Linked DNA regions of Homo sapiens. The protein of the gene in region 4 purifies or fractionates together with the protein of the main gene of each other region. This does not show direct contact. Each region holds a gene or a part of one and is shown on either strand. Other genes may lie near its edges.

The links.
Region 1: the proteins of RBM25 (region 4) and EPB41L2 purify together in Homo sapiens (affinity purification with mass spectrometry; 2 studies listed by BioGRID, with this or other methods). This does not show direct contact.
Region 2: the proteins of RBM25 (region 4) and NCBP3 purify together in Homo sapiens (co-immunoprecipitation; 2 studies listed by IntAct, with this or other methods). This does not show direct contact.
Region 3: the proteins of RBM25 (region 4) and PRPF40B purify together in Homo sapiens (affinity purification with mass spectrometry; 3 studies listed by BioGRID and IntAct, with this or other methods). This does not show direct contact.

The regions. Positions count from the first base shown.
Region 1 is NC_000006.12:130,863,791-130,871,638, reverse strand, and holds part of EPB41L2 (band 4.1-like protein 2), read left to right. Parts: intron 1-1,257; coding exon of another isoform or gene 1,258-1,311; intron 1,312-1,512; coding exon 1,513-2,076; intron 2,077-4,057; coding exon 4,058-4,180; intron 4,181-6,004; coding exon 6,005-6,103; intron 6,104-7,848. UniProt on the Homo sapiens protein: Required for dynein-dynactin complex and NUMA1 recruitment at the mitotic cell cortex during anaphase.
Region 2 is NC_000017.11:3,801,466-3,808,902, reverse strand, and holds the end of NCBP3 (nuclear cap-binding protein subunit 3), read left to right. Parts: 3' UTR 1-6,745; downstream 6,746-7,437. UniProt on the Homo sapiens protein: Associates with NCBP1/CBP80 to form an alternative cap-binding complex (CBC) which plays a key role in mRNA export. NCBP3 serves as adapter protein linking the capped RNAs (m7GpppG-capped RNA) to NCBP1/CBP80.
Region 3 is NC_000012.12:49,618,795-49,626,872, reverse strand, and holds the start of PRPF40B (pre-mRNA-processing factor 40 homolog B), read right to left. Parts: upstream 3,313-8,078; 5' UTR 3,283-3,312; coding exon 3,280-3,282; exon of another isoform or gene 3,081-3,279; coding exon of another isoform or gene 3,054-3,080; exon of another isoform or gene 2,703-3,053; intron 2,055-2,702; exon of another isoform or gene 1,926-2,054; coding exon of another isoform or gene 1,709-1,925; intron 1-1,708. UniProt on the Homo sapiens protein: May be involved in pre-mRNA splicing.
Region 4 is NC_000014.9:73,053,725-73,062,066, forward strand, and holds the start of RBM25 (RNA-binding protein 25), read left to right. Parts: upstream 1-4,809; 5' UTR 4,810-4,981; exon of another isoform or gene 4,982-5,060; intron 5,061-5,361; exon of another isoform or gene 5,362-5,511; intron 5,512-5,551; exon of another isoform or gene 5,552-5,729; intron 5,730-8,342. UniProt on the Homo sapiens protein: RNA-binding protein that acts as a regulator of alternative pre-mRNA splicing. Involved in apoptotic cell death through the regulation of the apoptotic factor BCL2L1 isoform expression.

The DNA.
Region 1 (7,848 bases), on a different chromosome or scaffold from region 4:
CCCTTACCATGTGTTTAAGAATAATAGGGCAGGTCCAAGAGAGTTTGTGAGTAGACGTTGACAGTGCTGCAGAGACGTGTGTGTGTGATGTTAGGATCTTCAGCTCATGGTTGTCCAAGTGTCTGGGAGAGATGAACTCAGCCCTGCTGTCTATTAGAGGCTCCAGTCCAGTTAGTACCTTGGCAGCTTCACAACAATATCCAGAGGGCTCAGTGGTGTGGTGCCCTTCTCCATCCAGAATGGAGTCACTTTCGTGAATAAATAGGGCTCCTGGCTCTAGCTGAATTATTTTTAAGTTAGATCATAGGCAGTAGTACCACCTAGAAGTCAAAAAGTTGGCCATGCTTGAGTTATATCATTGTAAAGCAGACTTTTTGTAAGTGTGAGAAAAATGTGAAGCTTTAAAAACCCCTCTGTACAAAAAGGTTTCCACCCTAGTTAATAATATCATAACATAGTAATTTGTTCCTAATGTATTAAGTCAACAGATATTTATTGAACATTTAGGTGCTATATTACTCAACTGGAGTAAATTACTTTACTCCCAAGAAGTAGATGTCTGAAGGGGATAGGAGTGAACATGTCAAATAATAAACTTGACTGAGTTTAGATTTCAAAGATGCTAGTAGAGGAGCTAAATTGTAAAAGGAAACACTTGGAGTCACCATTGACACCCACCCTATTGTATAATATAGCCTTTGCCAACCTATGATACGAATTGGAAAGTTAATAACCATTTCTGGAATGAACATTTTCATGTTAATAGCCTTCTGAGGCTAACTATAATTTTGCCAATTAAAACTTTTTTTTTTTTTTTAAAGAAAACCAGCAAAAAATAAAAGTGCCATCTCCTTGGTGCTGTGTTCATTTAAGAATCAGCGTTCCAGGCTAGACTTTATAGTCTGATTAAAACCAAAACTGTTACTAGGTTTTAAAAGTTAAATTTTTTTCTTTAAAATGATGAGTCAGCTTTGGTATAATTCAATTTTTGTAAACTGTTTTAACTACATAGGTAGAGCTTATAGGTATATCTATAATAAAAGCATTTTACTTCTTTGGGAGGATGCTGGCTGTTTTTGTGTCTTTTTGTAAGCTTTTTGGCATTTGTCTTGATTGTCCTCTATGTGACCTTGAGCAGAGGTTTCTGTAGATGTTGATTCTTGCTGTTTTGTCTTTGCAGTGTCAGATGTTTGTTTCAGTGGTTGTTGAGGTAAAACTGTATTGATTTTGTGTCCTCGGTTGCTTTTTGTTCTGCAGACACGTGCTCCCGAGTCAGAAGGGCCTTGCACTGGAGCCAGGGATGCTGTTAAGGTTCTCCCCTTTTTCCATGTTAACACCATTGCCTCACGTTTCTCATTGCCCTCACGTTTGCCCCGCTTCCCTTTCAGTCAGCCATCATAATCATCTTTGTTTTTCTCCATGACATGAATCTGCCATCGGTTAATTTGGGTTTCCGTTGTTTTTATTTATTCATATATTTTTGTTTTCCCTCATCCATCTTTTTTTGTACAGAGTTCACATGAGACTCTGAATATAGTGGAGGAGAAGAAGCGGGCAGAGGTTGGGAAAGACGAAAGAGTAATCACAGAAGAAATGAATGGTAAAGAGATATCACCTGGGAGTGGTCCTGGGGAGATTCGTAAGGTGGAGCCTGTGACACAAAAAGACTCCACCTCCCTGTCTTCTGAGAGCAGCAGCAGCAGCAGTGAGAGTGAGGAGGAAGACGTGGGAGAGTACCGTCCCCACCACCGAGTGACCGAGGGCACCATCAGGGAGGAACAGGAGTATGAAGAAGAGGTGGAGGAAGAACCCCGCCCGGCAGCCAAGGTAGTAGAGAGGGAGGAAGCAGTGCCCGAAGCCAGCCCAGTCACACAAGCAGGTGCCAGTGTAATCACAGTAGAAACAGTGATCCAGGAAAATGTAGGTGCCCAAAAGATACCCGGAGAGAAGAGTGTACACGAAGGCGCTCTTAAGCAAGACATGGGAGAAGAAGCAGAGGAAGAGCCACAGAAAGTTAACGGAGAGGTGTCCCATGTTGACATTGATGTTTTGCCACAAATTATTTGTTGTTCAGAGGTAAATGGGAGTCCCAGGTGGGAGCCAAACTCTAGAGCTGCTTCTCAGATGGGGAACTCCTGCCTTTCTTCTCCTGTCCTCCCAGTTCTTCAGCTTTTTTCAACAAGAATCTGATTTTTCTCTCTCATGGGAGGAAGGGGGAAGCACTGCTTTGTGGATTTTCTGCCCGCCCAGTTCATGGGTTCCAGCTTCTCTGCGGCCACTGGACACCTGTAGGGTAAACTTTCCTAGAAGCACCACATCAATTTTTCCTTCCCTTTTCACATTTAAATTTTTCTTTGCATGTTTTGGGTGTTTTCAACTGTTTTGTCTTCAGTTGCACTGCTTCCTCACACTAAATGCCTTTTTTTCCCCTTTTGGTTTAATTAGAAAAATGTATATGTAATGTTGAAAAAAAAAATGGTCACTGCTGAGTGTGTGTGCCCCTGATGTCATGATTGGGTTTGACTTCTTGGCTCATTCTTCAGCTTCAGAGTTTTAGAAATGACAGCAGTCTCTGATTACCGTGGTTCTCTGAATGCAGTATCCAGCAGTGATGAGAATGTTATTTCTTGAATGCCACTGTGATTTCTGTTTTGGGATTGCAGGGGTTGTATGGTTTTGTTAAGAGCCTTTCTTTTCTTCCAGGCAGCCAGAGGCTAGGCTATTTGATAGGAGGATATCCTCGCTTCTCATTCTATCCTGATGTCAATTCTGGAGTATTTGCCAGATGATTATATGTTTTGTGGATTATCTATACATTGGACATGAATCTTTTTCTTTTCAAAGAAGAGAACTTTTTGGTCACTAAGTGCAGTGTCTCTCATTTGGGAGTTAGGCTGAGGGAGGGTTTATTTCCTTGGGAATATTTCTTGATTTTAATATTAAATGCCCACAGTACAGAGATTTATTTTGTTCTCTTCGATGGGATGGAAAATGTTGAAGTGACTTTGTCTTAAAATAATTAAGTGGATTTTAACCATGTTACTTTTAAACTTCTGTTTCACTTTAGAGAAGATTTTTCAAGAGTCTTTGAACACTTTGAACTATTCTGTATTTAACATATCGTTACTCCTCTTTAAATAATTATGCCTGTTGAGAATGTTCTCTCAAAGAAAGTACTGCAGTATTTTGGTAGTAGTATAGTCTGGTGTTGCATTAATATTAAGCATGCATACTCGGCAGACTAAAATGTTAATAAGCCGTTGAATATTTCCTTTAATGTTTTAAATTGTTCAAAGCATTGGTGTAACATTGATGGAGTAATTTTAGATAGAGCATTTTAACTTAGGTAATACAGAAGAAACACTGCAAATTTTAGACAGGTATAACTGAAAACAGTAATACTTGAAGACATCCTTTCTGAAAATGGTGTGTCTGTTAACAATAAGGCAGAAAAGGTATTGTGGGCAGAAGAACAAATCTTAGCCTACCTAGCTGGCATGCCAGTTAAAGGCAGTGAGCCTTCACACAAACTATGTGGTCCTTTAAATTATAATAAAAATAGAGACAAGTCACTTCACATAGTTCATTCTATTTTCTTTTCAATTTATTATTACTTGCCCAAAGCTAAGGAGGGAGGAGGAGAGAGAGAGAGAGAGAGAGAGAGAGTGTGTGTGTGTGTGTGTGTGTGTGTGTGTGTGTGTCACTATACACTAGGCTTGACATAAAAGTAGTTTGGGACCATCTTAATTTAAAGAGTAACATAATTTAGGAAGCCATCATGTCAACTTATTTTTCATATATGTGTATGTACACATACACACATTCATATATATGTACGTATCTATGTGCACATGTATGTATGTGTATATATGATATATTTGAAGGAAAATTTTTCTTTTATTTCTTTTGTTTGTTTTAGGTTGTTTGCTTTTACTCTTTTCTTTTGTGCATGAGTGTGTGTTTGGATATGTTTCTTACTATTATTTGTGAAGGTTCCATTAAACACTTTTACTTTATTACCTCTAGAATTTATTTTTCCCTTCCTTTTCCACCTCAGCCACCAGTGGTAAAAACAGAGATGGTAACAATTTCTGATGCCTCACAAAGGACAGAAATCTCCACCAAGGAAGTCCCCATTGTCCAAACTGAGACCAAAACCATCACATATGAGTCTCCACAGGTACAAAAGCTCTAGACTTGGACTGTTCGAGCTCTTTTTTCCCTTAGTGTATCTATGTTTTCATTCTTTCTTCTCTTAGTTTACATGTTTCTGGCTTTGATGTAGCTTTTTGTATCTGCACTTTGTAAGTGTACTTCAACAACATAATTTGCTATGTTCTCTTAGATTGAGACAGAGAGCTGCAATTAAATTGGTAACCCAGTAATTATAGGGGAACTGTACATATGATTATTTAGGACAGACAGTATCAATCTTGTTCATATGATTGAAAGCCATTTCTGAGTTGACATATCTAAGAATGTTTGTGTACACTTAGGAAACAAATTGTCTTGCAAAGTTTATCTGATATAATTCATCGATTAATAATAATCCGATCTAATTGTGGATGTGATTTAGGCTTCTTTCCCTCTCTAACTCCGTGAAGATTGACCCAATCAACTCATTCTTGCTTGTAATAACACACATACACACACACACACACACAAACACACACAGGCACACACACCTGTGCTTCTCCTTCGTGTGGAATTATTTTCTAAAGACCTATGTAGTCATTCATATGTGAATGGTGATACCATGTGTCTAAATAATTATCAGATTTGTGTGTTTGATTTTAGGTTTTCACACATTGGTTCTGTAAAGATTTGGAATAAGCATTAAGATGTTTAACCTTAAGAATAACAAAAAAAGATAAAGCATTCATGATTTCAAAATAGAATATAAAATAAATATTTTCTCCACTTAGAAGATGAACCTTCTGTGGTAGAATTGTATCATGGTGGAGGATGTCAGGTTATTGACCTCTCAGAATATTTTTTAAAAGGTTTAATGCATGCATGTGTGAAACACATCTGAAAATTATTTTGGATATGGCATCCTTGTGTGTGCCTTGATCCCACATAAGCACAAATAGGTTTCTTATGAACAGCTTGGCGGGGGAGCATTAGTGATGTGTCTGTGCTGTGATAAGTTGCCAGAATGAAGACATACAGGTGCATGACCCAAGTTTGAAAGAGATTTCCTCTTACAGTCAGAAAGGCTCTGGACCGTCCAGTTATTTCCTCGTGTCAGTGTCAGGAAACAGAGGGCAAATATGTTTCGTGATCTTAACATAAACTGTTAGGCTATTAATTTGCTTCATTGATTCCCCTTGGAAACTCTAGAATCTTCTGCATCTTTCAATATCAAAGCAAACAAGTTAAAATCTATTTTAACATATGTATGGGATTTATATATATGTAGGAGCACATGCGTATGTGCAGTATTGAAATATATGTGCCCGTATATATGCTCACAACATGCAAACTATTACAGGAACAATGTAGTTGATGAAAACAATCGCTAGAGGTAAGCAGATAACCAAATCATGCAGATTCAGTTTGTCCTGGTCAGGTTCTGTTGCTTGGTAATTTGATAAAATGTTTATCTATTTTTACCCACCTGTGCTTAAAAAACAACAAACTCAGCGCTTCTGGTCACTGTGGAAACTTCTCTGCCTGGCTCTCTAGTTTCATTTTCTAGCTTGTGCAAAAGTCCTTCAGACAAATTCTGTCATAATTCCCTTGTAGCTTTCAGTCCCACCTACTATGTCCATTCTCCTCTCTTTTCTCCACTCACACAGTTGAGTTTGCTTCTCCATGTGCACCTAGCCTTTTGCCTCTACTCGGTTTCAAATACCAGCCGCTCTCCTGGATGGTAATTACTACTGCAAACACGCAAACCACATGGATTTTAAAAGATGCATATTCGATGGGGCGGGGATCTTCTCTGACAACATAACAGAAGTTAAGCATTACTTTGTATTTTTCCCCCAACTATCCAAAGATTGATGGCGGGGCTGGTGGTGATTCGGGCACGTTACTGACCGCACAAACCATCACATCTGAGTCCGTGTCAACAACGACAACCACACACATCACCAAGGTAAAGCAATGCAGGGGATCATATGGAGAGGATGGTACATTACAGACAGAATCTTTTCTGAATTGTTTCTCTCTTCCTGTACACACTTCCAAGTAAGATACAGACAGTGCCAGCGGAATCAAAATGCCTTGGTTTAAAGTATCCAAGAAATTAGGCTCCATTGACAAATGCATTCAAGCCAAATTGCAATTTTGTGAAGTACAAGGGGGTAAAAATATGTTACGAATAGCTATATGTAAGATAGCTACAAAACCATAAATAATTTAATAAAATTTATAATTTATAAAAACAAACTTGTGCTTCTACTTTTATTAAACCAGCCCTCCTGACTAAAGCGAATGAATGAAGGCCATCATTCAGAATTTTCAGCAAGTTGTTCAAATAATGTAGAATTTCCCTCATTTAAGATCGCTAGTATACTGATTTGGGGCATTCCCCTGTTCCTCCCTGCATAATTCTCTAAATGTTTAGCACTGGGTAACCAGTCATCCCTGGATCAGCAGCATCAGCTTCACCCGGGGCATTGTTAGAAGTATAAATAGCGTGGCCCCACTCCAGTCCTCCTGAAACCTTAGAATTGTCTTAAGAAGCTTCCAGTGATTCTGATGCATGCTGAAGTCATCAGCTTTCTAACTCCAGCCTTATTTTCCACTATTTCCTTCTTCTGTTTTTTACTTTGGATAAGTGTCTAAAGGTCTTAAAGGTGTCCCTTGTGCCCTTCCCAACCCATGTTTCAACAACAATTTAAAAAACAGCAAAAGTAATTTGTAAATTTAAAAATGCCGCATAAATGCAAGGTACTGTTGGTGCTCATTTTAAAGCATATCCAGTTATTAAGCATAGTGATAAGCCTGGTTTGTTATGGTAAAATGCTGTCACTTGTGACTGAGAGTGTACATTTATCAGAGTTGTAAATGTTGGATGTGCGCTTTCCCAGGACCGTGTGGTATTTGCTTATTGACTGTTTAGAAGGTCACAGCCAGATGATCTCCTCAGCCTCATCCAGTGTGCCCCAGGCACTCGCAGCTTGTACGGAGCCCATAACGCTGTGAGGCAGTTCCCCCAGGAGCTCCCTCCTCCAGCCCCGCTCGCAGCCTTTGTCTAGCCATGCGCCATGTCTACGTGTATGACTACTTACGCAGGGTGTCATCAAATCAAACATTCAACAAAAATCTCATCCATCTTCCGTATCTGAAACCAAAGCAAATCCTTTTTAAAATTATTGCACTAAATGCAATAAACAAAATCAGCAAATAAATTTGTATGCTCAGAATCCATCAGTCAAAACCATCACATCATACAGAAGTCTTCTGTGATGGGAAAAAAATATATATCACATCAAACAGTTTCTCAAACCAAAAACAGATACCTAAATTCTTATAATTTCTTGTAATTCTGCAAGTAACTGATTTCTCCCTACTCTCCTTTTTAAAAATTGGCCAGCTAGGAGTAAAGAAACTCGGGAAACTATAACAGAATTCCCTTAAAGGAACTACTTGGATTAAATAATATCTGTCCTATCTTAATCAAGTGAGATTAAGATGGGACAGATGCCATCTTGAATATTGATAAATGAGTTTTAAGGTTGCTCTCAGCTGAGGGATACTTGTGGATGCTATAACTTTAGTAATAGGATTCTCTATTGAGCCTAAAAATAAAGCACAAAGTGTTTCTAGAATATCAGTCTTTTGCTGCTTGTTGTGTGTGGCCTTACAATGATCCACAGGTCTAGGTGGACTCCCATC
Region 2 (7,437 bases), on a different chromosome or scaffold from region 4:
GTTATTCCTCTGCTTGAACGTTTTCCAAAGCTTCACTATTGCCCCGAGAATAAATTCCACACTCCTGATCGCATGAGCCCAGTAATTCAAGGCTGTGGTGAGCTATGATCAAGCCACTGCACTCCAGCCTGGGCAGCAGAGCAAGACCTGTCTCAAAAAATACATACATACATAAATTCCACCCTTTTTGATAGCATGTTATGAGGCTCACCAAGGTCTATCCTCTGGCAGTATCCCTGGCCTGTTCTCCCCATCTCCCCTGCCCTCTGCTCACCAGTTCCCTAAATGTATCTTGATCTCACTAGCCCTACAGACTGTGCACAGAGCTGTTTCTACCTCCAGTGACATGCTTCCGCCCAGGCTTCTCCCCCTCCCGCCTCAATCTTCCCCTCACCAACTTAAGGTCTTAGGGGCCCTTCTAGGAGGCAGTCCCCAACTTCCAGAGCCAGGGTATAGGCTACTTCTATGTGTCCCATGGTACTGCCACAGAAGAGTCTCAGCTCTCTCCAGGATTCAGTTCTAAGGTCAGTGCCTAAGATAAAAATGGAGTGTAATTAAAATTCCTCTTAGAAATCTAAGGAAGGTGCCCTATTGAAGACCAACATCTTGAGGTCCCATGTAGTCATTTCTTGCCCATGTGGGAACACATTACTGTTTGGTTGAGTACCAGGTGAAGTGATTGGCCTGCAGTTAGGGCTGTGTTGTGCAAAAATCACTTGTTTTGGGGTGTTAGAACCACATTTAGGCGAGAAGATCACTTTTGGGGAGCTTGGGAACTGAGGCAGGCCGCAGGTGCAGCAGAGGCATGAGCTTGCCCGGGCCCGCCCTCTTGTCTATGCTCATGGAGTGAAGGAGGGGCCAGCGGAATGGCCCAAACAACTGATTTGTTTTTCTTTTTTTAAATCTTTTTCAGACAAATACCATTGTGTTTAAGCGAAATGTGTGTATAATGCCAAATCACTGTACCCCACAACCCTGCACACCTCTACACTGGACTGTAATTTCTTGTTCCTAGTTTGTCTTGCTAGACTGTAAGCTCCGTGAGAGCAGGGACCGTGTCTGCTTGTTGAGTGGGCTTTCCCCTGTGCCTGCCAGCATGCCTGGCATCTAGCAGGTCTTCTGTAAAGATGGGATGAGTTTGTAAACCCTCCAGCCTCAGGAGTGGCTCCATCCTCTGAGGCTCTGGGGCCCTCTGGCAGGCTAGTCATTTTTCTGCCATGTACGTACAATGCTTTATTTTCATGTTGTATTTTCCTTTCTAGCCAGTAAGCAAGCTCCTAATGAGCAAGTTTCTTTGTGGTGTTATCTCTGTATCCTTTCATCAGGCCAGCCCAGAGTAAGTAGTGCTTCGAAAGTGTTTGGTAAATGAATGAATTATGGTAACCCAGCCCAGTTCTGGCATCACTGTCTGCAGGTTAGTCTAATTCCAGATGAAAGCCCCAGATTCGAAAAAGGGAAGATTATTCAGAAGTGCATATGGTTGTATAAGAAAAAAAAATCTCATTAAATAGACCTGAGTAAACTTCAAATTTTGATGATCTGGCCATGTCGGAGCTGAAGCTTACCAGCTCTCTAAAGCATTTGCTAGGGAATCATGCAGATGGTCCAAAATATTTTTTAGAAAAGCATTCATCTGTCCCGGGATAGAAGTAGAGGAAGCTGGTAGGCAGGCGCTAGACCCTAAAGAAGGACTGCTGAGCCAGTTCTTAAGCCTGTGGTCCTGTCGGTGAGGAAAGTGAGAGCAGTCCAGAGCAGGTGAAAAGAGCAGAGCTCATTCCTCCAGTGGCTCTTTTGCCTAAAGCAGCATTCCTCAAACTTCTCACTCGAAGCATTAAGTTACGGTGAGATGCTAACACACGCTTTAGACTTAAGTCAAAATTTACTGTGAAGCCACAGCAAACCATGGCTTCACAGATGAATTAGTTGCTACACAAATAAGTTCGATACATAAGTACAGTAATTGCTTTTAAACCTTATAATAAGCAGTAAATTAGAAGTTAAACCATGTTTTTCTTTTACGAACTGAAAGAAGAGAATGCTTTTGATACTGAGAATCGCACACTGTGTCCAGGAAGATTGTTCTTGCATAACCAGACCCACAATAAATATCTACAACTTTTCTTACATGTTTATAAAATAAATCTTAGAAGAAAAATATTGTAGCTTTTTTTTTTTTTTTTTTTTCAATGAAGCTCTATGAACATTTCACAGAACTTTGTTCCTGGGAGTAGTTAGGGAAATGCTGCTTCAAAAAGCCAATTTTAAGTAGTTGTGAGGCATCCGAGTGGAATTTGGCTGCACTATCCATAAAACTTGAGAGTATAGGCGGTATTTCACCTACCAAGGTCAGTACCCTGCCTCAGGATTCTTACTGTTCATTTGAGCAATTCCGGGGCCCTCTCTGGATGACCAGGTTCGTAAATAGTTGAGACTTTGTGTTATCTCAAATTGTCACCATCACCTCTGGGCCAATATAGGTTAGTGAGGTCGAGAGGCCCACACCATTGACAGAAGAGAATTCTCAGGCCGGGCTTGGTGGCTCACGCCTGTAATCCCAGCACTTTGGGAGGCCGAGGCGGGTGGATCACCTGAGGTCAGGAGTTCAAGAGCAGCCTGGCCAACATGTTGGAACCCCGTCTCTACTAGAAATACAAAAATTAGCTGGGCGTGGTGGTGGGTACCTGTAGTCCCAGCTACTTGGGAGGCTGAGACAGGAGAATTACTTGAACCCGGGAGGCAGAGGTTGCAGTGAGGTGAGATCGCGCCACTGCGCTCCAGCCTGGGCGACAGAGCGAGACTCCGTCTCAAAAAAAAAAGAAAGGATTCTCACCTTCCTGTCCCTTCCTAGGAGTTTTGTGGTAGTGTTCGATCCTGTGATGTGGCCATCTTCTCCTCAGGGCCTGTGAGAGGCAGGCAGCATCTTTAGCTGAGGTAGAATGCCTGTTGGGGAAAGTCAAATAGGATGGTGGCTGGGGCCGGGGCTCTGGGGACTCCTTCTGCCCCACATACTCAATTGGAAAGACTGAGCAAGTCCCCTCACCTCCCTGGGCCTCAGCTTCCCTGTCTGTCAAATGGAGGGCTCAACTGGGGTGAGCTCCAGTTTCCTTCTAGTGCTAACGCGTGTTCAAGGATCCTTGCTCTCCTTTCCGGGGAGCATCAGGGGTGTGGGCTAGATAGCAGGAAAGAAGTAGGGGTTTGTAAACAAGAGATCCAAGCCCCTGGACCCTTGGTCCCAGCACCCAGTGCAGCCCTCGCCCTCCCAGCCCCTTCCTTAGAAAGGACAAGAAAATCCACTCCTTGTTCTCTCCCTGTCCCATCACCCCCGCAGTCCCCCACAGATCTGAGGCCGGAGGATGCCAACATGGTGAGCACCCTCTTGCTGTCTTATTCACGTAGGCTTTTCTTGGTGCCTGCACATGGCTCTTGTAAGGCCACCAATCTTGCTGGATTATGACCTCATCTAACCTTAATTACTTCCTAAAAGCCATATGTCCAAGAAGAGCCACATTGGGGGTTAGGGCTTCAACATATGAATTTGGAGGACATTTACAGTTCAGTCCACAGCACCTGGTCATGTGGAGATCCCAGTCTGCATTTGTGGGATGAAATCTCTGCTTTTTTAAAGTTTACACACCACCTAGCTGGGCACGTGGCTCACACCTGTAGTCTCAGCACTTTGGGAGGCCGAGGCGGGGATCACCTGATGTCAGGAGTTCGAGACCAGCCTGGCCAACATGGTGAAACCCCGTCTCTACTAAAAATACAAAAATTAGCCGGGTGTGGTGGCGGGCACCTGTAGTCCCAGCTACTCGGGAGGCTGAGGCAGGAGAATCGCTTGAACCCAGGAGGCAGAGGTTGCAGTAAGCTGAGATTGTGCCACTGCACTCCAGTCTGGATGAAAGAGCAAGACTCCATCTCAAAAACAAAAATAAAAAAAGTCTACACACCAAAAGAGCTGAAGGCAGGAGAGTTTGTGGTGGTTCAGAGTCCTGATTCTGGAGGAAACAGGCCTGTTTGGAGTCCCAGCTCTGCTCCTTACTAGCTATGTGGCCTCTCAGAGGCAGCATCCTTATCTGAGAAATCGGGTTGACCTTGTAGGTGGCTGAGAGGCTCAGATGAGGGCTCGCATGTGAGGCCTTGGCACTGAGCAGGGCACTCCTACCGAGTGTTCAAAGGTCGTGAGTACCACTGCTCTGCAGCCCTGGGCTCTGGTCTCAGCAATGCCGTCACTCTTTCTGGCTTCCTAAGAGTCAGAAGGCAAGTGGGAGAATAGAACCATTTCCTGTGTCTGAAGGCTGTGCCTCAGTGCTTTTGACTCACTCTGAAGACAGCAGGCAGCCCTTTCTGTTTTTTTTGGAGATGAAGTCTTGCTCTTGTCGCCCAGGCTGGAGTGCAATGGCGCAGTCTCGGCTCACTGCACCCTCCGCCTCCCAGGTTCAAGCAATTCTCCCACCATAGCCTCCCGAAGCTGGGGCTACAGGCACACGCTGCCACGCCTGGCTAATTTTTTGTGTTTTTAGTAAAGACAGGGTTTCACCATGTTGCCCAGGCTGGTCTCAAACTCCTGAACTCAGGCGATCCGCCTACCTCGGCTTCCCAAAGTGCTGGGATTACAGGTGTCAGCTACCACGCCCGACCCACAGGCAGCCCTTTCACCTCACGCCGAGCACGTCTCCTCCATCCATGAACATTTTGCAACTTTTTTTTAAAGAGACAGGTTCATACTATGTTGTCTAGATTGGACTCAAACTCCTGGGCTCAAGCTTTCCCAAGTAGCTTGAACCTCTTAAGTAACTGTGACTACAAGTGCACCTGGCCACTTTTTCTGAGACGGAGTCTCGCTCTGTCACCCAAGTGGAGTGCAGTGGCATGATCTCCGCCCACTGCGAGCTCCGCCTCCTGGGTTCACGCCATTCTCCTGCCTCACCCTCCTGAGTAGCTGGGACTACAGGCACCCGCCACCACGCCTGGCTAATTTTTTTTGTATTTTTAGTAGAGACCGGGTTTCACCGTGTTAGCCAGGATGGTCTCGATCTCCTGACTTTGTGATCCGCCCGCCTCGGCCTCCCAAAGTGCTGGGATTACAGGCGTGAGCCACCGCGCCTGGCCCACCTGCCCATTTTTTAAAAACTTTATTCTTCCTGGTATCAAGGGGAGAAAGAAAAAAATTTTTTAAAATATTTAAAACTTTATTTTGAAATAATTTCAAAATCACAGCAGTTTGAAGGGTACAACAAAGAACATTTTGCCACATTTTCTCTTTCATTCGTTCCCTCCTCTTCTCCCTCACCCCTGTTTCTTCCTATCCTCTCTGAACCATGAACCATTTGAGGATTATTTGTATACATCATGCTCGTTTATCCGTAAGATGTTTTAGTGAACATTTCCCAAGAACAGGGACAGCCTCTCACATGCCCATGGTACAGTTCTCAAATTCAGGAAATGTGTAATATTCTCTGATCAGCCCAGGAGTTGCTAATTTGTAGTTCCTGTTTCAAATTTGCCAACTGTCCCAATAATGATTTTGAAAGCCGTTGTTTTTCTGGTCCAGGATCCAATCCAGGATCAAGCGCTGCCTTTAGTTGTCCTCTCTGCAGCCTCCTTTCGTTTGGAGCAGGTCCTCAGCCTTTCTGTCTTTCATGACATTGATGTTTGTGAAGAGTACAGTCCAGTTTCTGTTGTAGAACGTCCTTGAAGTTGGTCCCGGAATATTTGTTTAAAGTGAGTTGGGAAACCACATTCACATGTCTTTTGGTTATGTGTGTATTTGTCAAACAGCCAGCCTTGTGCTGCGTGCTGTGATGGGGAGCATTACTCAACAGAGCCTGGCCCTGACCTTGGGGATGTAGTTTGGGTTTGTGGGGAAAGCAGCTACCGCCAGGTGGGCTTTACGGACCCCTGTGTGTCTCATGACTAGAGGCACTGACGCTTGGATAAATACATACTGGATGGATGCAGGATGAGTCCGCATTCTAGAAGTGTGCAGAGGTACAGAAGTGGCCCTGCTCCCTGTCCAGCACCCAGTCATCAGCTTTCCCTGGCTTCCCGAGGCACCCTGACGTTCACACTCCAAACACAAAGTCTTCTCTCAGGAATCTCGAGTGAGCTGCAGTCTGGGTTCTAGCCCTGCCCTAGCAGGGATCTGCTCAGTGACTGGGCTGCTCTCTTCCTGCTTTAGGCCAATGCGGGGGAGAGGAGACCACTGTGACTCTCCCCAGTGCCCTTGGAGCGCAGAATGAAGTGAGGGGAGGAGGAGGGTCACGAGCCCTGGAGCGCTGGGAAGACAGGCTGTAGGCCGCAGGCCCCGATCCTGCCTGGGACGAGGTTCAACAGAAGTAGGATGGTTTCATCATGACCTGGCAGGAAAACCACCAGACCTGGAATTTTGCTTTTACAACTGTTTAACTTCTGTTTCATACAGGATGGAAACCGGTGAATTGTAATCTCACATAACCGAGCAAGATCTAGTAGTCATAAGCACTTTGTCAGAGCAAAGCAGACAAGGCAAAGTGTTGGAAATGTCATCGGATCTTCACAGAACCTTAGCCAAGCAGCCTTTCAATGCGAGAAACAAAATAACATGGATTTTTATCTAGTAATGAAGTCAACACCATTGTCCACCCTGGGTTAACACATTCACATCTCAAAGCGAATGGGGCTGCAGACACTCGTGTTAGAGAGCCTTGGAATGTCCTGCCTTTTTACGTTTAATTAAAATTAAATAAAATATACAAAATTCAGTTCATCAGTTGTTCTAGTGGCATTTTAAGGGTTTAGTACCATATGTGGCTCATGAGTACCATCCTGGACAGCGTCGACCTAGAGCAGTTCCATCCCCGCGCAGAGTTCTGTTTGACGGCGCCACTCTGCACTTCCAGCAGCCTGGGGAGCAGGGGTGCAGGAGAGTTCCTTCTGTGTCACAGACTTGGTCACACAGTACAGATCTCAGATCAGCACTTAAACACGACTGCCAGCTGTCAACGGCGTGTTCTGTGGAATGCTGGGATGCATCACAGGTATGCTGGAAGATGTATAGAATTTTACTTCTGTTATTCTGGTAACTCAGAGTCCTGTTCAGTCAGTTTCCACGTCAGGTTGCTGTCCTGGTTTTAAAGAGAATGAACGCAGCCGAAGTTGAATCGAGGCAGTGATTTCACTCAGTGCGTTGGGTCTTTCCACTCACCTGGCCCTCCAGAACCCCAGGGCCTTGAGTGCATGGGCTGGTACAAGAGCCCAGTTTTTGGCTGGGGAGGCACTTCCTATGGGAGGGGGACGCCTGTCTCAGTGCTGAGGCAACCACCACCGAGGACCCTGGGCTGGAAGCTGGGCTGAGATGTCTGGTGGTAGGTTCTGAGGCAGGACAGGGGACCGACTCAAATGGATGATACGAACGGCAGGCTGGATTCACGTTGCTCCTGCACCTCCAGCATCTGCTGA
Region 3 (8,078 bases), on a different chromosome or scaffold from region 4:
AGGGACAGAACTGGGACTGGATCCAATCTGCCCTCTAGCCCTCCTCCCTTAAAAGCAAAGCTCCTACCACATGAAACAGGTCTGTTTGCAATCTAGTATATCCCCTGCAACCTAAGTGGTTAAATCACCAATGATTCAACGTTTTATTGAGAACTTACCGGTTCCCGATTGCCTACCCTACAAAATCTTTCATCTAACAGTCAAAGCCTTGCAACGAAGGCCGCCCCACACTCTTCTTTGCTCATCCTGACTCAATGGCTTCCCTCCTCCTCTCTTTGCACAGAATTGTTAGATTACCCTCAAGTGAAACACATTTCTTTTATTCTACAGTCTCATGCTTTGTTCAAGATGATCCAATATTCACCTCCTTCAGGTTACCCTTATGACTATCCCACACACATACACACACTCCTACCTGTGTCCCTTCAGGATAAATGATGCACTACTTTGCAGAGTGACATGCTACTCTGTGAATGTTTGCTGGGTGTTTCATGTGGGACTGCTTGTCTCCCACTCATGTGGGGATTTCCCTACATTCAGGGATTGAGTTTTCTCCTTTTATACCTCCCCCAAGTGTTTAGTCAGGGCCCTGCACACAAAGTGCTGTGATAAAATGCAGTCTCATCTCTAACCTTATTAGATTTTTGCATACTGGAATATCCTAAAATGCACTTTGAAAACAGTGTATACACGTGTGCATATGTACATCTGTATAAATTCTCTGACATACAGGCTGTGACAGAGAGAGGTAGCTTGGCAGAAGTCTTTGTGGCTTGGAAAAAGGAAATTGGATTGAAATGTTGGCATGAGAAAACCTAATAAAGCTAACTGTATACAGTCATCTTCAACTTGGGATGAAGACCTCTGGCCAGGATTCAGACACTGGCCTATTCTGGACAGTTCCCCACAGAGGACAGAACAATGGAATAAACATAAACTACTACAGAACTTCCAAAGCCCTTCCTTCGCTGAGCTTCCCGTGTTGTGTCCCTGCTTTCCTGAAACACCCCGTCCCTCTCCTACCTGCTGCAGTGCCATAAAACTTTGGGTCTTATTTTATTTCTGGGTGAGAATATGAAGACATTAACTAGTGACAGGGAAGGATATAGAAATGGTTGCTGAAAGAGAAGCAGATCCTGTGTCTTCCCTGGAACAAAAACACATTTGTGGGCTGAGAGATGATGAAGAGACACTTGATCATCTGATCATCATATGTTCACCTGGGCCAGTGAGGGGCCACCCCTTTCCCACCACCAAAGATGCAATCAATACTTCTGGGACTTCACATCTAAGGGGCATCTCAGAACTTAGCACTCAGAAGAATAAAAGGAGAAAAGGACAAGAATGGAGAGGCAGTAGGAAAAAAAACAGAAAGAGGGAATGATAACAGCTAATAGCTAATATTTACTGAGCACTTATTATGAGCCAGATACTGTGTCAAACACTCATTTAATCCTGGCAACCATCTCAGAGGTTATTATTCCCATTTTACAGATAAAGAAACTGAGGTTCAGAGATTAAGTAACCTGACCAAGGTTCCAAGACATTAAATGGGAGAGGCAGGTTTGGAATCCAAGCAGTCTGACTCCAAAGCCTGTGCTTTCAACCAGTTCACAAAGCTGCCTCCCAGCAAGGATGATGGCGCCACAGATGATACTGCTTACATTCAGATACATTTCCTTTTTTCTTTTTTAACCCCAATCCTTACACAATCCAGAAATCCTCAGCGAGCCAGGTGTTCCCAAGGTCTGCTTGGTCTGACTCATTCCCACTTCCTGAAGATGAAGGCTGGGAGGCACATCTCTCAGAAAGTGGTAGCCATCATCAAAAAAAAGGCTGAGAGACCAGCTGGTTACCCTGTGATCTACCTGCGGCCCTTCTTCAGCTGCCCCAAACAGCACCTGCCCTTCCGTTTCAAAGACCATCCTAGTTTCCAACTTTCCTGGACCAGCCCTACTCTTCCTCTTGCTCCCCAAAGATCTGCCTTACTAGAAAGTATCTTCCTGTTGCTTTTTTTTTTTTTTTTTGAGACAGAGCTTCGCTCTTGTTGCCCAGACTGGAGTGCAATGGCGCGATCTCAGCTCACCACAACCTCTGCCTCCCGGGTTCAAGTGATTCTTCTGCCTCAGCCTCCAGAGTAGCTGGGATTACAGGCATGGGCCACCACGCCTAATTTTGTATTTTTAGTAAAGACAGGGTTTCTCCATGTTGGTCAGGCTGGTCTCCAACTCCTGACCTCAGGTGATTCGCCCGCCTCGGCCTCCCAAAGTGCTGGGATTACAGGCATGAGCCACCGCGCCCGGCCCCTGTTGCTTCTTTCTGATCCTGCCATCTCATCACTCTCCCTCTGAAGAAGCGAATGTTACTTTTGGTCTCCATCATTGTGGAGTTAGGTTTCAACCTCCTCCTCTCCTTAGAGTTCTTCCATCCCTCCAACAGGATAAGGCTAGCCAGCCCCAGCCCGGCAGGCTTTCTGTCTACCATCCCCCCGCACCCGTGGGGATTTCTCCAGCCCCAGCCCAAGGCCTCGCCTCCATCTTCATCCTTTCCTTTGCTTCCCTACCAAACCCATTCTCCTAAACTTCCTCCTCAAAAACCTATTCATTTAGACCCTGGAAGAGATCTGGGATTTAATTTTCATGCATTTCCTTTTTAAAAAAATTGATGGGAAATCTGAGGCCCAAAGAAAGGTAGTGACTTGCCCAAGGTCACACAGAGTCGTTAGTTTGTTGATGGCCTGGGCTGGGAGCCCCTTTCTTCAGAGGCCCCCTCTCCACCTCAGGAGACAAGCTCTTGCAAATGCAGGAAGGTGAAGCAGGGAGTCCCCAAGTGGTCTGAGGAGCACCCAGGCTTCCAAAGGGAACGGGCGCTGGGGCTGGGGGAAGGGCATGTCGCACACCAAATATCCCAGGAGGGGAAACTGGTCCCCACCTGTCCCCTGGTCCCCTCAGTCCCCTCATCTCCGCCCTCTCTCTTCTTTCCCGATCTTTCTCCGCGAACCCACCCCCACCTCTCCCAATCCCACTCTTCACCCAGTCCCGCCACTCTCGCACCTTTCGCCCCCGGCCAGGCTCCATCATGGCCTCCCCCGCCCCTTCGCCCCCAGTCCCCGCCCCCATCCCCCCTCCCGGGCTCTCTTCCCTCACCCTTGGCCTCCCTCGCCCTCCCCGGGGTCCCAGCTATCCCCAGCGGCCTCCCCGCCCCATCGGCCACGGCCCGGGCCGCAGGGGGCGCTGTGGGACCGCCCCGAGCCCCTCCACCCCCGCGCGGGGATGTTACCATGCCAGAGCCTCCGAGCAGCTGGGCCGGCTCAGCCCACCCGCCAGTAAGAGCCGCTCTGATTGGCCAGGCCGCAGCCGGGAGGGCGGGGCCGGCGGGGGGTCGCACCCCTTCGTGGCCGGGGCTCCGGTGGCTCCCGCCGGCGAGCGGGGCCCCAACCGGCCCGGTGTGTTCGGTCCCGGCCCCGCCCCCCCGGCACGGAGAACCAGGCCCCGCCCCCGCGCCGCCGCGTCCCGGGTCCGCCCCCCGGGGGGCGGGGCACGCCTGCTCCCGCCTCTGACTGACGGTCGGGGGCCGGCGCCTCTGCCTCTCCCCGCTGCCTGCGTCCTGGCTTCGCAGTCGCCGGCGCTCCAGGAGCCGAAGCGTTCACGCAGTGTGTAGGGTGCCTTTGCGCTGCACAGCGAATTTAATTTGCTGTGTAGCTCTTTTACAGTACTTTTAAGTTAGTTAACTCCAGAACTATTTGTTGAGCACCTGTGAGGTGGCAGGGTCTGTCTCAGGGACTGAGCACACAGCAGCTTGGAAAAAAAAAAAAAAAAAGACAAATCCCCGAAATCACGCCCTTGTGGGGCGTACACGTGCTTCTCGCGTGACCCTGAAGTTCACTTTTGGGACCTGGCTCCCACTGAGCGCTGAACTCATGAGAGCAGGGCCCACTCTTTGACAGAAGTTAAAAATGTGAGGTACATGCTTGCTGTGCGGCTGAGGAAACTGTAACCTGGAGCTCTGCGGGGAATGCGCTGAAGGCCTTGGGGCTGGAGAGTGACAGGCCCCAGGCACACGGGTGCAGAAAGGCGCTGACCGCCAGCCTGCAAAGCCCCGCAAAAGGCGCTTCCTGTTCCCTTTATTCCCCCCTCACCTGAGCCGGGACTCGCGTGATGCCGTGCTAGGTTCCTGAGAGCCAAAGAACTCCGGAGAGGTAGAAAAACTCCTGACACGAAGAGTTAGAGGTGACACCTGGGAGGAAAAGGAAGTGGGATTCACCCTTGTGGGCTGCTGTAGAGAGAAAATGCTTTGTGGTTTAATCAAAATGATACCCACATGGTCTCAAATGAAGGCCCAGCTCTGCGGTTTTCTTTTCTTATTTGAGGCAGCGTATTGATCTGTCACCCAGGCTGGAGTGCAGTGGCACAATCAGGGTTCACTGCAGCCTCAGCCTCCTGGTCTCAACCGGTCCTTCTCCCTCAGCCTCCGAGTAGCTGGGACTACAGGCGTGTGCCACAACGCCCGGCTAATTTTGTAACTTTTTGGAGACGACGTCTCCCTGTACTGCCCACGCTGGGTCCTGTGGTTTTCAAACTTTTGGGGGAGGTGGGGTGAGGAGACTGGCGCGCGGCCCGCAGCCGCCGCCGCGGCAGGAGAGGGGAATGGAGGGGGCGGGCGGGGGGAGGAGGACGGACCACCGGCGGCCTCTCCACCGCTCCCACCTTCCCCCGGGGGCTGCCGCGATGCCAGCGCAGCTGGGGCGATTTTCAAACTATTATTGAGATCTCTAAGTATAGCAGAAGTGGTCCAGAGGTTCCGTGAACTTTCATGAATTGCATTTTTATTTTTTAAATGCTTTTCTTTTCTTTAATGAAATATTTCTTAGAACATGTACACACATATAGAATCGAATAATTGTACCAGATTTGTTAAGACAAACAGCAGAGCCCTGCCCCCATCGTCTTCCCCTCTCTGGAGGCAACGTTTTCACCTCTTTTAGCTGTTTCTTCTGGCATTTACCTTCACATCTCCGGCCTTCCCCCAGCTGCAGCCCTCCCCACAGGGCAAGGGGTCCAAGGGGATTTGCCCATGCAAAGCACACTTGCCCAGGATTAGACCATATTCTGAATACCTAGGACCCTGGAATTCCCTGCCCAGCTTCCTCCTTGGGTCTGTCCTCCCCAGGGAGACCTTCTGTTTTTTCCTGCACAAACTTTTATTTTTCCTGGAATTAATAATCTTGTTTTTTAAAATCATTTATTTTCTATGTATTTCTCACAAACTCTACCTCAAATTCTTCCCCCAGTTGCTTAAATTTCCTCTCAGAATATCTAGATATAGCAGAGAATTCTCTCCATTTCATCTTCTTGAAGACATCACTGCTGGAGACTGCTGACCTTCTCCAATCTGACTGTTCATCCCCTCACCTTGCTGCACATCTGGCAACCTGGCATCTCTTTTCTCATTCTCCTGGGCATGTTCTTTGCCTCATTCTTTTGTTGTTGTTGTTTTGTTTTGAGACAGAGTCTCGCTCTTGTTGCCCAGGCTGGAGTGCAGTGGCTCACTGAACCTCTACCACCCGGGTTCAAGCTATCCTCCTGCCTCAGCCTCCCAAGTATCTGGGACTCCAGGCATGCGCCACCACACCCGGCGAATTTTTGTATTTTTAGTAGAGATGGGGTTTCACCATGCTGGCCAGGCTGGACTTGAACTCCTGAGCTCAAGTGATCTGCCTGCCTCGACCTGGCAAAGTGTTGGGATTACAGGCGTGAGTCACTTTGCCTGGCTGCCTCACTCTTCTGTGGGATTTTTATTTGCCATATTCTATGCTTTTCTTTTCTTTTTTTATTTTTTTGACATGGTCACTTATTTTTATAACAATACATATACCATGTTATCACCATGGAATGTAAATTCAGGTTAGACAAGAGAATTTCACAAGTGTAATGGCATTCTGTAGTATAGAAAAGCATGTGTATAATGTCTGTTCAAACCAGCTTGCTTATAAATCATTAATTCCATTATAGGTAATATGTTTAACGTTTACAATTCTTACGGAGAAAATAACATTTTCTCCATTTAAAAAGTGTTCTTCAGTTACCTTCCATGAGTGCTTGAAATACATGTTTCTGTTTCAAGATGACATTTAAAAATTATCCTTATATTACAGCAGCAAATACAGATATCTACAATTACAAAAGAACTAAACTAGAATTCATAAGTTATTCTCATGTTTACAGTTATGATTCTTTAATAAATGCTACTACTATGCAGCTCTATTGTAAGCTTCCTAGATTTGATTTAAACACATACACATATATACTTTCAGCTGTGGGAGGTTTTACAAGTTATATTCCATGCACTTTTTTTTTTTTGTATTTTTAGTAGAGATGGGGTTTCATTGTGTTAGCCAGGATGGTCTCAATCTCCTGACCTCGTGATCCACCTGCCTTGGCCTCTCAAAGTGCTGAGATTACAGGTGTGAGCCACCGCGCCCAGCCTCCATGCACTTTTTTGACAGAGTTCTAAAAGAGCCAGCCAGTCCACAAGACAGGCAGAAAAAAGTTAAATTAACTGGGGCAAATAGAACTCATATAACATCCAAAACATGCAAGATTCTGCAGCAAACTAGGAGTACTTCAGGGTTGGTTTGCTATCTTCTTTAGAACTAATTTTATCCTAACAGTTTAAGAAGGTGGACATTTCAACACCATCTTTTAGGTGACATGTTTCTTTTGTGTTAATTTGACTCCCCTGAATGACCTAGTTAGTAAACTAGTCACTAGTAATTCAGTCACCAGGCAAATCAAGCCTGCAAGAAAGAAGGCCAGTATTCACAATGCCGTGTTATCAGCTGAACCCACTCAAATAGTTTATTTTAATCATTAATATGTAGCTTCAATAATGAGATGTGGACGCGGTGGCTCATGCCTGTAATCCCAGCACTTTGGGAGGCCGAGGTGGGTGGATCACTTGAGGTTAGGAGTACAAGACCAACCTGGCTAATATGGTGAAACCCCGTCTCTACTAAAAAAAAAATACAAAAATTAGCTGGGCGTGGTGGCGATCACCTGTAATCCTAGCTACTCAGGAGGCTGAGGCAGGAGAGTCACTTGAACTCGAGAGGCAGAGGTTGCAGTGAGCAAGATTGTGCCACTGCACTCTAGCTTGGGCAACAGAGCAAGACTCCATCTCAAAAAAAAAAAAAAAAAAAAAAAAAAGAGATGTCTAACTAAAGTAAGCTCCTCCAACAAAACCAAGATAGCATTTCTTCTACGGTGTAGGTTTTGCCCAGAATTCCCGATACATGGAATGATAGCCCATACCAACAGTCATTGCTCCTTCAACAAAGCCTTGGGCTGCCACACACATGTGGATCAGATGATGCAACATTTTAGTATTTCCCCTGCTCTTCAGTTTGTATAATACATATGCAACAATTGCTGCAAAACCTGCCATTCCAGTGGGGATGAATGGTGCCTCTTTAGCTTTTCAAATAAGTTTGGATCCCTAGATTTTCATCATATGAAGGGAAACATCTGTATTTGTTGACACAGTGATTGCTTGAATAATCTCCCTAGAGCGAGAAAACCCCCTCACACACCAACCGGCTTCTGATCCCCACCTGTGCCTGTGTTTTTCTTGATTTATAATACTCCCGCTTTTTTGAGGAGACCATCATCCAGAAGCTTCCTGAGAAAGGGAGCAGTAAATTATTTTGGAACTTTGCGTTTTTGCTGTTGTCATTTTTCAACTGTGACCCTTGGATTGGTTGTTTGGCTGGGTAATGAATTCCTTCAGAATTATGAAGGCATTGCTACATGGTCTTCTAGCTTCTGACACTGCTGTGGAGAATGAGAAGTCTGAAGCCTTTTAATTCCTTGTCCTTTCTAGGTGACTTTTCCCCTCTCTGAACTTCTTGTTTCCAATGTTCTGAAATTGCAGTGATATGTCTTGGTGAGTGGCTATTATCTTCCATTGTGCTGGGCACTCAGTGCCCCTCACTTTTGGGGAATAATCTTGAATCATCCTATTGGTGATTTCTTCCTATTTTCTCTATTCTTTCCTTTTTGGAACTCCTATTACTTGGACAA
Region 4 (8,342 bases):
GCGCTGGGATTACAGGCGTGAGCCATCATGCCTGGCCTGCATTTTTAAATTTTAAGCTCACATTTGATATCAGAATCCTGAAGCCTAAATTAGGGATTCTTTTCTCCATGGGAACTATGTTTGCTTCTGTCAAGAGCCTAGGACTATTACTAACAAGGGAGCACTTTAACATCCTTTCAGAGTCCTGACTTAACTTGGTAAACTTCAGTTACTCCACCTTGCTGGGTAGTCCAGCCTTGATCTCTAGATTCTGTGTTAATGTGCTTCCTCTCTCTATCTTCTTCTCTCTATATACACATATATATTATATATATTCACATATATTATATATATAATGGCATTATATGTATTATATTTATATATTTTATGCCATTATATACTATATAATGGCATTGTATATATATATATATTTATGTATGTATATGTATTTATGTGTGTGTATATATATATATATATATATATATATATATATATAATGATGGCCATGCATACACACGCAAACACACACACACACACAAGCAATCCTCTCTCCTCATGATTGAGACTACAGGTGTGTGCTACTGTGCTGGGCTCCAGTTTCAATTTTTGAGAAGATCTGCTCAGTTCCAGCTAAACAACATTTTTCCTGGTATGCTGCTGTTTAGTTGGGTCAGATGTGGCCAATGAGAATAGGGTCCAGGCCAGGTGTGGTGGCTCATGCCTGTAATCCCAGCATTTTGGGAGGCTGTGGCAGGTGGATCACCTGAGGTCGGGAGTTGGAGACCGGCCTGGCTAACATGGAGAAACCCCACCTCTACTAAAAATACAAAATTAGCTCGGCATGGTGGCATGTGCCTGTAATCCCAGCTACTTGGGAAGCTATGCCAGGAGAATCGCTTGAACCTGGGAGGCGGAAGTTGCGGTGAGCCGAGATCATGCCATTGCATTCCAGCCTGGGCAATGAGAACAAAACTCCATCTCAAAAAAAAAAAAAAGAAAAAAAAAAGAATGGTGTCCAAATGCACACAGAATGTAATATCCAAATTAATTATCTACAGTTTCCTTAGCAAGGATTTGTAAGAAAAAAATAGAAGGAGGATAACTGGCATCGCAAATGAATGGCTTGGCTTGTTCTCTACAAGTGGTATATAAGTGTATCATTTAGAGTTCTTTCTGTGTAAGGAATAGAAAACTCAACTCAAACTGATTTCGGAAAAGTAATGTATTGGGTTACATACTGATAAGCCTAGAACAGCTGGCTTTAGGAGTAGCTGAGCCAGCCGGGCTCAGTGTAATCCTGGCTTTTGGGAGGCTGAGGTGGGAGAATCGCTGGAGCCTGGAAAGTTGAGGCTGCAGTGAGCCGTGATCATGCCACTGCACTCTAGCCGGGACAACAAAGGGAGACCCTATCTCAAATAACAACAGCAATAACAAACCAAAAAACAAACAAAATGAATGAATGAACCATTTTCTCAACTGATATTGTCAAAAATCTCTCACCCTGTCTTACTTCTGCTTTCTTCTGTGATTTCATTCTCATCCCCATCTATTCTAAGCTTAAATCCTCCTAAGCTTAAATTGAAAAAAAAAAATCAATTTAAATGAAAAATATAGAGACCCCTCCCCTTCTTTTTAGGATTATTCCTGAAAGGATGAAGCAGTATAATGTTCCAGAGCACGAACTCAGGAACCAGACTGGCTCACTTACTATTTTTGTAGCCTTTGATAGGTTAATTTTTGCAAGCCTTGGTTTCTTCATTTGTATCACAATAGTTCTTACTTCAGGGGGTTGTTATGAGGATTAAAGGAGTTGATATTTGCAAAATGCTTTAAACAGTGGCTAGTACCAAAAAAAAAAAAAAAAAAAAAAGGGAGGGGTGACTAAATCATCAGGTTTTGATTAGGTTGTAAGTTTACTCCTGTGTCCTAAGGGGGTCTGGTTAGAGTTGGGACTTCCTATCCAAAGTACATGGATCTGGAGTAGTGGAAGGATGGTTTCTTTTCTTTTTTTTTTTTTTAGACCGAGTTTTGCTCTTGTTGTCCAGGCTGGAGTGCAATGGCGCGATCTCGGCTCACTGCAACCTCTGCCTGCTGGGTTCAAGCGATTTTCCTGCCTCAGCCTCCTGAGCTGCTGGGATTACAGGTGCCTGCCACCACGCCCAGCTAATTTTTGTTATTTTTAGTAGAGACAGGGTTTCGCCATGTTGGCCAGGCTGGTCTCGAACTCCTGACCTCAGGTGATCCACCCGCCTCGGCCTCCTGAAGTGCTGGGATTACAGGTGTGAGCCACTGCACCTGGCTTTTTTTAGACAGAGTCTTGCTCTGTTGCCCAGGCTGGAGTGCAGTGGCGCAATCTCGCCTCACTGCAACCTCTGCCTCCCAGGTTCAAGCGATTCTCCTGCCTTGGCCTCCCAAGTAACTGGGACTACAGGCACACATCACCAAGCCCAGCTAATTTTTGTATTTTTAGTAGAGGCGGGGTTTCACCATGTTGGTCAGGCTGGTCTTGATCTCTTGACCTCGTGATCTGCCTGCCTCGGCCTCCCAAAGTGCTGGGATTACAGGCGTGAGCCACCGCACCCGGCCAAGATGGTTTCTTTTAAAAAATGTGGAGGGTTCATTACTAAAGGCAAGGGGAATGGATGCTGCATGAACATCAGCAACAAATTGTCTAAGGTAGGAAAGTTAGCAAATTGTTGCCTGAGGGCTCCCTTTATTACACAGTAAACACAAATTCATGTACAATGTTTCTAATAATAAAAAGGGACACAGATTAATCTGAGATTTCTGTTTATGCCTTTTGTTGTAAATAGGCACAAACTCTTGGGCGGCCATGGTGGCTCACAGCTTTGATCCCAGCACTTTGGGAGGTCCAGGTGGGCGGATTACCTGAGGTCAGGAGTTGGAGATCAACCTGGCCAACATGGTGAAACCCCATCTCTACTAAAAATACAAAAGTTAGCCAGGTATGGTGACCCACGCCTATAATCCCAGCTACTGGGGAGGCTGAGGCACAAGAATCGCTTGAACTGGGAGGCAGAGATTGCAGTGAGCCAAGATCACGTCACTGCACTCTAGCCTGGGAAACAGAGACACCTCCTCAAAAAACAAAAACAAAACAAAACAAAAAAAGAAACTCATTTTATTTACAAACAATAAATAGCATTATAGAGTAGCACTATAAAAACTATAAATTTGAATAGCACTTTACTGAACAAAGTACAAACATACATAAGTTAATTTCGTCTCCCAAGTAACTGGGACTACAAGCACTCGTCATCACGCACGGCCAAAGGTATTATTAACTTTAGTTAATGGTAAGGAAACCTAGCAAGCAGAAGTATAGAAGGATGTAAATTTTGCAGATGGTAGTAATTAGTGCTACTTTCTCATTTGTGCTCCCACTAAATTTTGTGTTCTATTGGTACTCATCATATGTTAATCATTTCTTTTCTTTTCTTTTCTTTTTTTTTGAGACAATGTCTCACTTTGTTGCCCAGGCTGGAGTGCAGTGGTGCCATCTCGGCTCACTGCAACCTCCGCCTCCAGGGTTCAAGCGATTCTCCTGCCTCAGCCTCCCGAGTAGCTGGGATTACAGGCGCCTGCCACCACGCCTAGTTTATTTTTGTATTTTCAGTAGAGACGGGGTTTTGCCATGTTGGCCAGGGTGGCCTCGAACTCCTAACCTCAGGTGATCCACCCGCCTCGGCCTCCCAAAGTGCTGGGGTTACAGGCGTGAGCCACCGCGCCCGGCCGGTAATCATTTCTGTCACTCAACAAATATTTATTGAGCGCTTGCTATGTACCAGGACCTGTTCTTGCACAAAACAGGCAATCCATGCATTGCTTACATTCACATTCTAGTGGGGGTAGTGACGGACCATAAAATCAGCAAGAAAAATGTATGTTATGATAGATGGTTATGAGTGCTTTAGAGTAAAATTAAGTAGGGGAGGCAGGCAGGAAGTGTGTAGTATGTTTCAATTTTATATTAGGCTGGTCATGGTTTGTCATCTATTTCACCTGGCTCACAGTTCTTGCAGGACAGGAACAAATCTCACTTCCATTTGCCTTCATACTTCCAGCACTTAACACAGCACCAGGAACTCAGGGAGGCAATAACTTTATACTGAATCCGTTTTATGCCTTCCTAGAGGCAAGCAGTTGAGAAAGGCGTGTAACTAGATATTGCCTATAAGGTCCACAATTGGAATAACGTAATCATTTATGATTAATTTTATTCATTTCCATTAACTTAAGCTAAGTTCTTTTAGCACGTTTAGATTACAGAACGAAAGCTGTGTTAACTAGTATTACAGGACTTTTCACGTTTTTCCAAACATCTTCTAGCCACCTCTTTGGCCCTACAACTACGCATAAGCTTTTGCTTTTCAAAAAACCTCCACAGCCTTTGCCAATTATTTGTTGATCTCGAGTAGTTGTTATAACAGCACTTGGGGTTTAACACTAAGGTTGCAGATCGCGCCCAGTTATCAGTTCCTCGAACCTCAAGGAATCACAAAGCAAGGTTCCACCCCCCGAAAAACTACGAAAAGTGAGAAAGCCTCTAACACTCCTCGCGCCGTGCCCAGCCGGAACCTTGACCTCAAGATGGCGTCCCGTAGTCGTAAGATTCAGTCGGCTCCAATCAAACATGGTGGGTCATAATTTACAGTTCGGGCCTTTCTAGTAACCGCTAGACGCTGCTTCTCTATGGTTATTCGTCTCGGCTTGGTGAGTCAGAGCCAACAGCGGAGACGATCTATATACGTTCTTCTCTATGGTTCCGCGCTCCCCGCCCCCGGCCGCAGTGCACGCCGGGCAAGAGGAAGACCTCCATCAGCTCGCCGCGCAGCGCGGCTGTATTTGCGGCCTGTGCGAGTAGGCGCTTGGGCACTCAGTCTCCCTGGCGAGCGACGGGCAGAAATCTCGAACCAGTGGAGCGCACTCGTAACCTGGATCCCAGAAGGTCGCGAAGGCAGTACCGTTTCCTCAGCGGCGGGTGAGTTTGTGTCTCTGAACGCGTGTGGAAACCGGGAGACCGGGTGCCTCAGCTGGTGGAGGAGGAAAAGCCGGGGTGGCTGCGAAAGCGCCAGGGTGGGGTAGAGGTAAGGGGGAGCGCGGAGGCGGGGGTGGGGGAGGGGTCGGCACGAGGCTTGGTTTCTTCTCTTCTCTAAGGCCTGGAAAAGCTGTGGGCCCAGCCGTAGCTGGTGGAGGCCAGACCTACGGCTTGAGCTTTCCGTCTTGCATTGTCGCCCACTTTCCCTTTCCCTTCCACGTTCCGCCGCGGAGTGAATCGTCTCTGCCCCCCCTGGGCTCCACGTTAGATACAAAACGATCGATCTGCCCCAGGGGAGCCCTTCCCTGAGCCCCCTTACTTACCGGAGCCCCACAGTAGGTTTTCGGGCCTGGGACACTCTCGCCCCAGCCGTTGCCTTGAAGTTAGCCTCTACCCACCCTTTTTAGCGAGGTGCTGGCCACCAACGGATATCTTTCCCTTCCTCTTTGGCCATCTAGAGCCCGCCACCAAGTGAACTGGGCCCCACCCCCTTGGAATTGAGCTAATACCTACCTTTTTAGCAGTCTCCTGGCTTGCTTAAGATAGTCATGAATTTTGCCATCCTGCCTCTTTTGCGCATTGGAGGGTGCAGTAAACTGTATATCGCCATTCATTCTAGGCGATTACTAAGCTCCACATTAAAATGTTACTTTCTCATTTTTCTTTGGTCGTCAATCCTGCTTTTAAATACGGTTTTCCGGAATAGACGTAGGACTATGAAGATTTTTCGGAGGTTATGTAATATGGATTTGTATTGCCATGGAAATGCCATTTTGATACTGGGCAGAGTGGAGCCAAGAGAAGGGAAGAGATTGGACCTCTGTTGCACCCTACTGCTGTATTAGTGTGAAGTACTCTGTGTATTAGGCCGTGGGCAGTAATGTATAAATAATTTTTGTATAGTCTTTGGAGCTTTTAATTTTTTTAAAGGCTATTTCCAAAAACATTCAGAGGACTTGAAAGGGATTAAGTTGGTCATAAGTTACTCATGATTCAAGTGAATCTTATAGTATTCTAATTCATTTAACTTAAAGCCTTGGTTTTTCTTTTTCTTTTTTCTTTTAAGCTTTGGTTTTTGTTCCTCTGTAAAATGAATTTATAGTAGTATCTATACGTTATTGGGGTTGGGGATTGAGAAAAACGTATGTAAAATCCTTCGTGCAGTATCCAGGTAACACACATAAGCATTTAAATCTATATTGACATAATTTGTTATTTAAGGATTTTCAATGAAATGTAAGAGTCCAACCCTGACTCTGTAATTTTTTTTTTTGTTTTGTGTTGTTGTTTTTTTTAAGACGGAGTCTTGCTGTGTTGCCCAGGCTGGAGTGCGGTGGCGCGATCTTGGCCACTGCAACCTCCGCCTCCCAGGTTCAAGCGATTCGCCTGCCTCAGCCTCCTGAGTAGCTGGGACTACAGGCGCGCGCCACCACGCCCGGCTAATTTTTGTAGTTTTAATAGAGGCGAGGTTTCACTATGTTGGCCAGAATGGTCTCGATTTCCTGACCTCGTGATCCGCCCGCCTAGGCCCCAAAGCGCTGGGATTACAGGCGTGAGCCACCGTGCCCGGCCTTCTGAATGTATTTTTAAAGTAAAACTAGTCCATGTTAACATTGGGTAACTACTTCAGACCTAACAGGAATTTGGAATTTTCAAGTTATGTTTTTGTCCACAGACAAATTAGCAGTTTACTTTTCTTATTTACACATGATTTAGTGAAAATTTACATTATTTTATAGCTTTGGAAGCAAAGGAATCATTTATCAATCTTAACATCTTGCTAAAACAGTCTGTATTTTAGAGATCTCTTGATTGACTTTTCAAACACTATCACTGCCATTCACAAAAGGGGATTTTTGATTCTTCTTAAATAGCTTTTCTACCTTTTTTTGAAAATTGAAAGTTGCTGAAACTAGAAGAACAAAATTCCACTACCCAGAATTATTGGTATTGGCTTTTAACTTTTTATTTAGACATAATTTCAGATTTACAAAAAAAGTTGCAAGAATAGTACAAAAGAAATCTCAGCTATCTTTCACCAGATTCCTCAAATGTTAACATTTTGCCAATTTGCTTTATCCTTCTCTTCATAGGTTTCTTCTGAAATGTTTTGCTAGTAAGTTGCAGATGTGATGCCCCTTAACCCATAAATACTTAAGTGTATTTTCTAAAAATTAGGACTAGTCTTACCTAACAACAGTACGACAATCAAAATCAGGAAACTAACACTGATAAAATACCTAATCTACAGTTCTTAAATAGATTTTGCCGATTTTTCTGAGTTGGTGTACTTTTTTTTTTTTTTCCTTTTTGGAGATGGAGTCTCGCTCTGTCACCCAGGCTGGAGTGTAGTGGCGCGATCTCACCTCACTGTAACCTCCGCCTCCCGGGTTCAAGCAATTCTCTTGCCTCATCCTCCATAGAAGCTGGAATTATAGGTGCCTGCCACCATGCCTGGCTAATTTTTGTATTTTTAGTAGAGACGGGGTTTGACCATGTTGTCCAGGCTGGTCTTGGAACTTCTGACCTCAGGTGATCCACCCGCCTTGGCCTCCCAAAGTGTTGGGATTGCGTGAGCCACCGCACTTGGCCAATATGCCTTTTTTAAAATGGCAGCTATATGAACTATATTGACATAGAAAATTCACCTGTAAGTGCACAATTCAATGATTTTTGGTAAATATACAAAGTTATGCATCCATTACCCCAAAAGGATTCCTTCTGTCTGTTTGCAAGTCACCCTGTTCCACCCCAGTTTCAGGCAAGCCCTCATTTTTCTGTATAGATAGTAGTAGATAGCGCTGCTTTTTTGTTTTATTTGGTTTTTGAGATGGGGTCTCTTTCACCCAGGTGGAGGGCAGTGCTGCGATCTTGGCTCACTGCAACTTCCGCATTTCAGGCTTAAGCAATCCTCCCACCCCAGCCTCCCAAGTAGCTGGGACCACAGGTGCACGCCACCATGCCTGGCTATTTTTTTGTATTTTTGGTAGAGATGGGGTTTCACCATGTTGCCCAGGCGGGTCTGGAACTCAGGCTCAAAGGATCCACCTGCCTCGTCCTCCCAAAGTGCTGGGATTACAGGTATGAGCCACTGTGCCCAGCCTTGTTTTTGTTTTTAAAAAGATGAATTCTTCCTGTGTTGCTCAGGCTGGAGTGCAGTGGCTATTCACAGGCGTAATCCCACTATTGATCAGTTTGGGAGTTTTGCCCTTCTCTGTTGGCAACCTGGTGGTTCTCTCTCATCCCAGGAGGTCACCATATTAATGCTGAATGGACTTAGCATGAACACCTGATCAGTAGCGTG